3 linked regions of the Homo sapiens genome follow. The protein of the gene in region 1 purifies or fractionates together with the protein of each later gene. This does not show direct contact. Each region holds a gene or a part of one and is shown in the gene's direction. Other genes may lie near its edges.

Region 1 (2,745 bases):
AGAAAATCACAGACAGAACTCTCCTATACATGCATACAGAGCACCTGGTGCATAGTAAATCTTTAAGGAGCTTTAGACTCTCCGATCCCCCCATGCCCTGCAATATGGAGTAGCCTCATCTTGGTGGACTCATCAGGACATGCTCCCCAGGTCTGTATGTCCAGGAATGCAATTGTGTGGATGCATCCAGGATTGATCAGGCTCAGGGAATTGCCAATCTTAAACCTTAATGTTCCTTTACAAGCACAATTGGAACTTAATGCCAAAAAAAAAAAAATTCTGGGATCTTCTGTTATACCCTATCCCATTACGGACAAATCTACTCGTAAAACCCAGCTGCTGGATAAGCAAGAACAGCCAGACCAAGGGCGATCAGTGCATGGTCATTAGGGCTGGTGACCCTCGTCTCTGGGCAAGGCCTGCTGGAGGTGGATATGCAGCCTGATTCTTGTTCTGTCTCCTCCTCTCCTAGGGGCTGTATGGCCACTGTCTCCCATTTTGCCACCCCTACCAGTTTTCCTTCAAAGTATGATATGTGGGCAAAGATTAAGTTCTCTTAATTATGACACATTTCCGCTCTTGCCTCTCAAGTCACTAAACTGAGATGTGCTGGACCCCTATGGCCACCACCCATTTACAGATGATCAGTGTAATCTGATATACTGATAATCCAAGTGACTAAGCCCTTCATTATATGTTCATTTTCCTTAACTCCATTCTCAGACTGTAACCTTAACCTCTAATAAGGGGGTTACTAGGTCATAGTCCTCTTAAGTTCATGTCCTCTACCTCATTACTGGAACCCCAGTATGCATAACACCCCCTATAAACTGTAGTGCTTAGAATACCTGAACAGCCCCCTCCTCTCTCACCCCCATTTAGCAGGTTATGCGGAAGCCCAGCCCCAGAAGCCTCAGGCAGTCCCCTGGCAGAGCCCATCTCTGCAATCTGGAACTTCAGGCCTGAAAAATCCCCTAGAAGGACCCACAGGGAAGACAGCTGGGGACAGAGATATTGAATGACTTCGCCCTGGACCTGCAGCTCTGCAAACTCACAGGAAGAAGAAAGCAGACCTCGCTCCCTTGGACAGATGCCCAAGTAGTAATGGGGTTAGAATGCCTTCCTGACAACTCAGATCCCCAAGGGAGGGCCCTAGGGCAGAGAATCAGCAAAGGCAAGAGGATGAGTCTTAGTTCTCAGAAATCCCTGACTTCCCAGCTAAGCCCCACCTAGGCCACCAGCTGCTTATGAGGTCAGAGCAGCAGCAGCAGCAGCCCCCTCCCTACCCCACGGCCCCACGTGGTAACAGGTCACAATGCCCCGGGTGCCCACTCCCAGAATGCTGACCAAAGTGGGAGGAGGTGAGGAGGGTTTGCTGGGTGGGTATGGGGGAGGGGGAGACTCTGCAGGAGCCTAATTCCCCACTCTGAGCTCACCCTTCTGTCTGCCCGGGCCCTACCCCTTCCCCTACTCTCACCCTTATAATCCTTTTCAGCACTAGGTCTTCCCGTCACCTCCACCTCTCTCCATGACCCGGCTCTGCTTACCCAGACCCGAAGCACGTGAGGATCCGATCCCAGTTCCTCCAAGGGGCCTGGGTGCTGGGGAGGGGTCAGGTAGTCCAGTGCGTCCACCTGTATCCACCTGGGGCCCTAGCTGGGCCCAGCTCCTGGACAGTGTCCTATGGCTGGGGGCACTAGGACTGACAATCCAGGCAGTCTTTTCCACCACTGGCCCAGCCCTGCTGCTGCTTCTGGTCAGCTTCCTCACCTTTGACCTGCTCCATAGGTAAGTGGGCAGCAGCCTGGCAGGTGGGCATTGTAGGCGGGCGGGCCAGTGGACAACTTCCCTAAGCCCAGTCACCACCCTCTCTCTCCACAGGCCCGCAGGTCACACTCTGCCACAGCGCAAACTTCTCACCAGGGGCCAGAGTCAGGGGGCCGGTGAAGGTCCTGGACAGCAGGAGGCTCTACTCCTGCAAATGGGTACAGTCTCAGGACAACTTAGCCTCCAGGACGCACTGCTGCTGCTGCTCATGGGGCTGGGCCCGCTCCTGAGAGCCTGTGGCATGCCCTTGACCCTGCTTGGCCTGGCTTTCTGCCTCCATCCTTGGGCCTGAGAGCCCCTCCCCACAACTCAGTGTCCTTCAAATATACAATGACCACCCTTCTTCATCAGGCCCCCTTTTCTCCTTCCTGGCTGGGCAGGTGGGATGATACCCCTTTCTTCCCAGCCTGAACCTCACAGTCCTATAATATAGGTATCAGATACCTGGATCTGAGTCTTTGGGCAGCAAGAGAAGGTAGGATACTAGCCAGGGAGCCCAAGGAAGAATGTGGCAGCCACCTCAGAGCCTGTGGATTGGGGGCAGCCACTCTGGCCTCCTCTGTGGCTCTAGAGAATGAAGGTCCAGACAGAAAGACTTGCGAGAGAGCAGTTTGGAAAGGGGTGGATATCAGCCAGCAGGGAAAGCAGGAAAGGGACAGGGATCCAGGGAGGGCTTCCCATGAGAAAGCATGAGAAACTACATCTGCGGGGCTCCGAGGCTCCCCTGCCAGCCTGGAGGGTCCGTGCAGAGGGACTTGGGTGGGCCTCACACCCTACAGTGACTCCTCTCTTGGCTGGACCCCACCCCAGCCCGGGTCACAAAGGGGCTCCTCTGGGGAGGGTGGGGGTAGATGAGAGTGGGGACTTGGATCTGCCTGCCAGGCCGTCCTGGGCGCTGCAGGAAGCAACATGACTTAG
Region 2 (3,655 bases), on another chromosome or scaffold:
ATGGAAGAAGAATTGTCTTGGGCCACACATAATATGCAGTAACACTAATGATAGCTGATGAGCTTTAAAAAAAAAATCACAAAAAATATCTCATAATGTTTTAGGAAAGTTTACGAATTTGTGTTGGGCTGCATTTGAAGTGGTCCTGGGCCTTGGTCTGCGGGTTGGACAAGCTTGTTATAATCCCAGCATTTTGGGAGGTGGAGGCAGGAAGATCACTTGAGTCCAGGAGTTTGAGACCAGCCTGGGCAATATGACAAATCCCCATCTCCACAAAAAATACAAAAAATTAACCTGGAATGGTGTCGTGCACTTATAGTTCCAGCTACTTGGGAGACTGAGCAGGGAGAATTGCTTCAGCCTGGTAGGGGCAGAGGTTGCAATGAGCTGAGATCACGTCACTGCACCCCAGCCCGGGCAACAGTGTGAGACCCTGTCTCAAAAAAAAAAAAAAAAAAAGAAATATGGCTACTGCGACATTTAATTTTAGTTAGTTTACATTTAAACAGCCACACTTGACTCGTGATTGCCTTATTCGACGGTGCATCTCTGGAGGACTTGCTCCCTTCAGCCTGACTTACAAGAAACTGTGTCTCTACCTGAGCTCCAGTTGTTGAGCGCTAAGGGGCAAGTGGAAACCCAGATGACCATCACATCAGCCTTGGGAGCCCAAAGCTGGGCAGAGGGCTTGGAAGTTGGCCATATTCATGGCTGGTATCTCCATCAGATGCTGATTTGGGGCCATCTGTGTATGTACCCTGTGGAGTTAAGTGCTGGTGATTCAGAGTGGTATAGTTGTGATTTACACACTCAAGAAATGGGAGTGCGGGCCAGGTGTGGTGTCTCACGCCTGTAATCCCAGTACTTTGGGAGGCCAAAGTGGGCAGATCGCTTGAGCTCAGGAGTTCAAGACCAGCATGGGCAACATAACAAGACACCATCTCTACAAATATAAGTAAACAAAATTAGCCGGGCATGGTGGCCCGCTCCTGCAGTCCCAGCTATTCGGGAGGCTGAGGTGGGAGGATTAAAAAACAAACAGAAAGAAAAAAATGCACAGTGCAGAGAGTGGGAGCAATGCCAAGGTAGAAGGCATGCACTAGTACTCTCTGACTTGGGAGTACTAGGGAGGGTCCCTGGCCAGGTTGGGGGAGGGTAAAAGAGGGAACCAGAGGGAGGGGCTAGCAAGTCTTGCTGGAGGAACAGAGGCAGTGGGTGAGAGGCCTAGTATGCTGGGTGAGGAGTCAGACTTGTCCGTGTCCTGATCATGTCTCAAGAAGTTGCCTCTATCTACATCCCATGTGGCCACATCCCCAGGCCCAGCAGCCTGGTTGCAAAGTCAGCCAAGGCGATCACTGCCGCCTGTATTGACAGCTTTTGGCAGGTTGGCAGTCATAACATTTGCGTGGCAGTTGTGGCAGAATCGTGTTCCATCCCTGAAGCAGGACTTTGAAGCAGGGTGTATTGCTTCATCCCTGTCTGATAGACCAGGAAACCCTGGGCTGAAGGAACATCCCACAGTCGTGCTTTGAGTTGTTGCTGACCCTAGATTGTCCCTTAGGCTCTGGCCTTCTATCCCTCTACACCTCTCACCCCCAGGTGCTTGGGAATAAGTACCTCCCGGGAAGGAGCCTCCACCCATCACACATATAAACTGTAACCAGGCTGCCAGGTGGAGGCCTAGTGGTGGAGTGGAGAGAATGGACTTTGGAGACAGATCTGATTTAAACCTCTGCTCCATTAATCGCATCTATGGTACTCAGAGCAAGCCTTGAAAAATCTGAGCCTCTCTCTTGTCTATAAAATCGAGATACAGCTTCTGAACTCATCAGTAGCTAGGAGAACAGAGAAAGATGCTGTCTATGAAGTGTCTAGCTCGAGATCTTGCACACAGGCCTTTTATAAACGTGGATGCCTGTCCTTTCTTCTTTACCCTCTTGTAAGTGGGGACATCCAGGTGGTCCTGCAGCCTTCTCCGCTGGGTGACAGTGGGTGGAACTGGCCCGGTTCCAGTGGAAGCAAAGAGGTCCTTCTCCTGCACCCTGGCTTTACTCATCCTAGCCCTAATTTTTTGAAGATGGAGTGTTAGTGCAAAGTGTTAGATTAAGAAGAAAATGGATTTGCAGTCACAGCCGAGGTGGAGTGTGAGTGCCCGTTCTTCCTAAGGACTCAGCTTTTCTGCCCAAGCTCTCAGACTCCAAGGTTGTGGAGGCAGTGAGAGGGAGAATCTTCTGGGTGGGAGATTTGGGGTTCCCAACACATACCTATGGTGAGCCAGCATTTCCTTCTGAGGCCCTCAATATGTTCACGTATGAAATGATGGTGTTGGATTTATCTGAGTTTCTCAGACCTACCTGTTCGTTGGGTTGTCTTGAGAGACAATTTGCAGTCCTTTTTTCTGGCCCTACCTCAGACCTATTGTGGTCTTGGTATATAGCCTATAAATTCATGCATTCTTAAAGTTCCCCAGGTGATTCTGATGAATTTTTCTGGACATCTCTGATCAGTCCCTGGCATTCTCTCATTGGAAGAAGGATACTTTTTTTTCCCTTGGAACCTTAGCTGCCCATGCTCACTGCAGGAACTCTGCAGCTAGCCACTAATAAGTATTTATTGAGTACCAGCTGTATGACAGGCCCTGGGGATACAGCTATGAACAAGACTTCCTCCTTGCCTCAAGGGGCTTCTATGGAAGGAGTGGGAATACTTAGAAACAAGGAACATGGTGTCCCTGTTTATGTGTCCCAGGAACTTGGGAATGTGGTGTGTGTGTTGGGGAGAGGCTGTGCAGCTGCCCAGGCTGGGAAGACCACCACCTGGGAGTTCTGAGACGGGGATGGAGGAGTGAGATGCCAAGATCTAGGGAAGAGCATTCCAAGCTGAGCAAGACTAGCTTGGCATGTTTGAGGAGTAGGAGTAGAGTGAACAGTGGGAGGTATGGAAGGGGGATGAGGGTGGAGAGGGCCTGGGAGGCTGGGCTAGTTAGAAGGGGGCCTTGCAGACCACCAAGGCTGGACCTCAGGCTAAGGGGGTTGGGGAACCACTGGAGGTCTGAGCAAAGCTGACATGCCCTTGGATGACTGTGTGTGGAGGTAGGAGGCAGCTGCAGGAGCCCAGGTGTGAGGCAGTGCGCACAGACAGGGTTCCTGAGATGGCAAAGTACAGGGGAGAGGGGCTTTGAAGGGGAAGGCAAGAGTCTGGCTTTGGCCACATTAAGCCAGAGATGACTGTTAGACAGGTAAGCGAAGAGAGACATAAGCAGGCATCTGGACTAGAAACAGATACAGGATATCAAGCCCTGGGGCTAGACGAGGCCCTCTGGTGACAGAGCTTAGACCACAGAGACAGAGGACTGGGAGATCATTCTGTGCCCTGAGGCTCGCTCTGCAGGTATTTAGCAGGAGTTAGAAGAATCCAAGGAAACTTGGTGGGGTGGGGCGGCATGAGGACAGTGGGGCTGAGAGAAGCCAGGCGAAGACTGGGGATGGGTTTTGGCAAGACAAGGTGATAGGTGAGCTTGGTCCAGCTGTTTCAGGGAAGTGTGTGGTGCCAGTGGAATCCAGGCCAGCTGGGTTGAGGTGCAGCATGCTGGCCAAAGCCTTCCTGTAAATTAAGCCTCCTTTCCACTGCTTGAAGTCCTCACTGGACCCCAGCC
Region 3 (3,655 bases), on another chromosome or scaffold:
CTTTAAATATCTCAATCTAGTTAGGTATAAAAGTAAATATTTTCTTATTTAACGTATTACTTCTTGTAGGAAACTTTGAGGGAAATTTTGAGTCACTGGACCTTGCGGAATTTGCTAAGAAGCAGCCATGGTGGCGTAAGCTGTTCGGGCAGGAATCTGGACCTTCAGCAGAAAAGTATAGCGTGGCAACCCAGCTGTTCATTGGAGGTGTCACTGGATGGTAAGTGATGTGAAAGATGTCCACTGTCTTTTGTGCATGATTTAGTATTGCAGTTATAGGTACCATCATCTCCTTTAACCAGTGAAAACACATTGGCTTCTGTGAAATTGGTCACTTAATGTGGAGCATGTATCTAAACATCATCTTAAAGTACCATTTAATGGTTACACATAATGATTGTTTCCTATATGCCAGGTTCTGTTTGAAGTATTTACATAGATATCTCATTTCCTTCTCACAACTCTGGAATTAGTACTGTTATTTTCTATCCTCATTTTATAGAAACTGAGGCTCAGAAAGGTTAGTTTGCCCAAGGCCACATAGCTGGTAACTGGTAGAATAAGGAGCTAACTACTTATTAGCTATGTCAGATGATAACTTAATGTGACACAGCTTATGGTTTCATTTGTAATAAATTCAAAAAGTAATAGCAAATTTCATAGGTGAATATTGAATCCATTAATCTCATAGACTCTTTACATTTGAAAAATTTTATAGCACCATATAGCAAATATAGAACAGCACATTTAACAGGTGTACATTTTAGCAAATACTTGGAGTGAACACCTATGTAACAACTGCTAAGGTTAAAAAAAACGTGGCTAGCGCCCTAGAAACTCGAGAGGTTATTAAGCAGTTATTTCATTGCTTTTCTTTGTAGTTTTAACACCAGTTATGTCACTAAATAACATACTGTGGTTTACCTGCTTTCCACCTTAAAGTAAATGCAATCAGTATGTATTCTTTTGAGTCTTGCTTTTTTCGCTCAACCTGATGTTTCATATATTCAACTACATTGTGTATAGTTGTAGTTTCTTCACTTTCACTTGTATTTTGAGTTCCATTATGTGAATATACCACAGTATATCCAGTTGATGACTGATATTGGAGTTGTTTCCATTTTTGGCTAATACTATGCTTATATGAGTATTAGATTTCCCAGTGTATATGTGCATACATTTCTGTAGGGTCTGTACCTAGAAATTGCTAGGTAATGGGTATAGGTATCTTCAGCTTCACTAAATAATGTCAAACCACCTTCCAAAACTGTTTTTAACAGTTTACAGTCCCAGCAAGGACCAAATGAACCTGTTGTTCTACATGGTGGCACTTGATTTTGCCAGGCTATTAAATTTTTAAAAAATTAGTTAATTTTTCCTTAGCGAGGTAATCAAGTTAAATCCAGACTATAAAAATTTTACCAGTCTGGTAGTTAGGTAGTAGTATTTCATGGTGGCTTCATTTACATTTCCCTGAGTAGGAGTGACATTGATCGACTTTTACGTATGTTTGTTGACCATTTGGATCTCCTCTTTCAGTTCCACTCTAGTTTTTTTCCTCTGAAGTTGTCATTCTTTCCCTTGTTAAGCTGTAAGAGTTCTTTATATATTCTGAATATTCTCAGTCCTTTGTTAGTTGTGTGTATTATAGATATTTTCACTCATTCTGTGGTTATCTTTTCGTTTTATGGTATCTTTTGATGAACTGAAGATCTTATTTTTAATATAGTCAATTTTATCAATCTTAACCTTAATGGTTAGTGATTTTTGTGGCTTATTTAAGTAATCTTTGCCTACCCCATGTTTCAGAACTTTTATTATTTGACCTTTCACATTTAGATTTATTATCCACCTGGAATTGTTATTGTGCTCAGTATGTGGTAGATTCCTTCTTTTCTTCCCCATGTGGAATACCCATTTGTCCCAACTTAATTTATTGTGAAAGCTATCCCTTTCCCCGCTGCTTTATGTGAGTGTGTGTGCGCATGCATATGTGTGTGTCTGCTATCTTGTTCTTTAGGAACATCTTGGCTATTTTCTTTATCTCTTAGTTTTTAAATTTAATAAATAGGTATATTATAAGTTGCACATATTTAAAGTATAAAATTTGATACATTTTTACATATGTACATGCCCATAAAACCATCACCACAGTCAAGATAATGAACATACCTATCACTTCAAAAGCTGCTTTGTACCTCTTTGTAATTCCACGCTCTTTCCTTCATGCCATCCTCCCGCCACTGATCTGCTTTCTATTACTATAGATTATGTTTTCTAGATTCTTTTTAGAAGTGGAATTACATAGTATATATTCTTTTTTGTCTGGCTTCTCTTATTCACCATAATAATATATTTTTTTGTTTTGAGACGGAGTCTTGCTCTGTTGCCCAGACTGGAGTGCAGTGGCACGATCTTGGCTCACCGCCTCCTGGGTTCAAGCAGTTCTCCTGCATCAGCCTTCACCATAATAATTTTGAGATAATCTGTGCTTTTCTGTTTATCAACAGTTCATTCCTTTTTATTGCTAAGTAGTACTCCATTGTATGGATGTACCACAATCTGTTTCTCCATCCACCTTTGATGGACATTTGAGTTTTTTTTTCACTTTTTAGCTGTTACAGATAAAACTTCAAGTTTGTATACAAGTGTACAAGTCTTTGTATGAACATATGCTTTCATTTCTTTTGGGTAAATATCTAGGAATAGTATGGCTGAGTCACGTAGTAAGTGAATGTTCTAAATTTACAAGTACCTGCCAGTTTTTAAAGTGCCTGTACCATCTTACATCTCCACCAGCAATGTGTGAGGGTTCCAGTTCCTCTGCATCCTTACTAACACTTGGTATTATCTTTTTGATTACGAACATCTTAGTGGGTATGAAGTTGTATCTCATTGTGGTTTGAATTTGCGTTTCTCTAATGACTAATGATGTTGAGCATTTTCACGGGCTTATTTTTTGCCATTCATATATCTTTGATGACTTATTTGTTCAAATCTTTTTCCACATATTTTTATTGGGTTGTTGGTTTTCTTTCACTGCTGAATCGTGAGAGTTCTTTAAATATTCTGGATAGAAGTCTTAGATATGTGATTTGCAAATATATTACTTCTCTGTAGCTTTTCATTATCTGAACTGTACCTTTCAAAGAGCAGAAGTTCTTAATCTTGAAGTGCAGCTCTTTTGTAGCTCCAGCTTTTGGTGTCATGTCTGAGAATATTTGCCTAATCCAGGGTCACCAAGATTTTCTCTCGCTTTTTCTAGATTGTATATAGGTTCGGATTTTATATTTAGTTCTGTGATCCATTTTGATTTACTTTTTGTATATAGTATAAGGTAGGAATCCAAGTTTTTTTTGCGTATGGGTATCTAGTTGTCCCCACATTTGTAAAAAAAAGACTGTCTTTTTCTCCACTGAATTGTCTTTACACCTATGTTGAAAATCAGTTGACTATATGTTTTTGAGCTCTTTGTACTGCCAAATTGATCTAGGTGCCATTATCATGCTGTTTTGATTACTGTAACTTAGGTAATGCAAGTCTTGAAATTTTGTTTTTCATCAAAGCTATTTTGAGTATTCTAGGTATTTAGCATTTCCATCTGAATTTTATCTTGTTTTTATACACTCCTCCATATGAATTTTAGAATTAGGTT

The links.
Region 2: the proteins of C20orf141 (region 1) and CCDC12 purify together in Homo sapiens (affinity purification with mass spectrometry; one large-scale study listed by BioGRID and IntAct). This does not show direct contact.
Region 3: the proteins of C20orf141 (region 1) and FUNDC2 purify together in Homo sapiens (affinity purification with mass spectrometry; one large-scale study listed by BioGRID and IntAct). This does not show direct contact.

The regions. Positions count from the first base shown.
Region 1 is NC_000020.11:2,813,657-2,816,401, forward strand, and holds C20orf141 (uncharacterized protein C20orf141), read left to right. Parts: upstream 1-1,330; 5' UTR 1,331-1,361; exon of another isoform or gene 1,362-1,495; 5' UTR 1,496-1,528; coding exon 1,529-1,788; intron 1,789-1,881; coding exon 1,882-2,119; 3' UTR 2,120-2,174; downstream 2,175-2,745. Other genes in the region: TMEM239 (transmembrane protein 239), read left to right, coding at 2,679-2,745.
Region 2 is NC_000003.12:46,966,706-46,970,360, reverse strand, and holds part of CCDC12 (coiled-coil domain-containing protein 12), read left to right. Parts: intron 1-3,655.
Region 3 is NC_000023.11:155,033,334-155,036,988, forward strand, and holds part of FUNDC2 (FUN14 domain-containing protein 2), read left to right. Parts: intron 1-69; coding exon 70-220; intron 221-3,655. UniProt on the Homo sapiens protein: Binds directly and specifically 1,2-Diacyl-sn-glycero-3-phospho-(1'-myo-inositol-3',4',5'-bisphosphate) (PIP3) leading to the recruitment of PIP3 to mitochondria and may play a role in the regulation of the platelet activation via AKT/GSK3B/cGMP signaling pathways.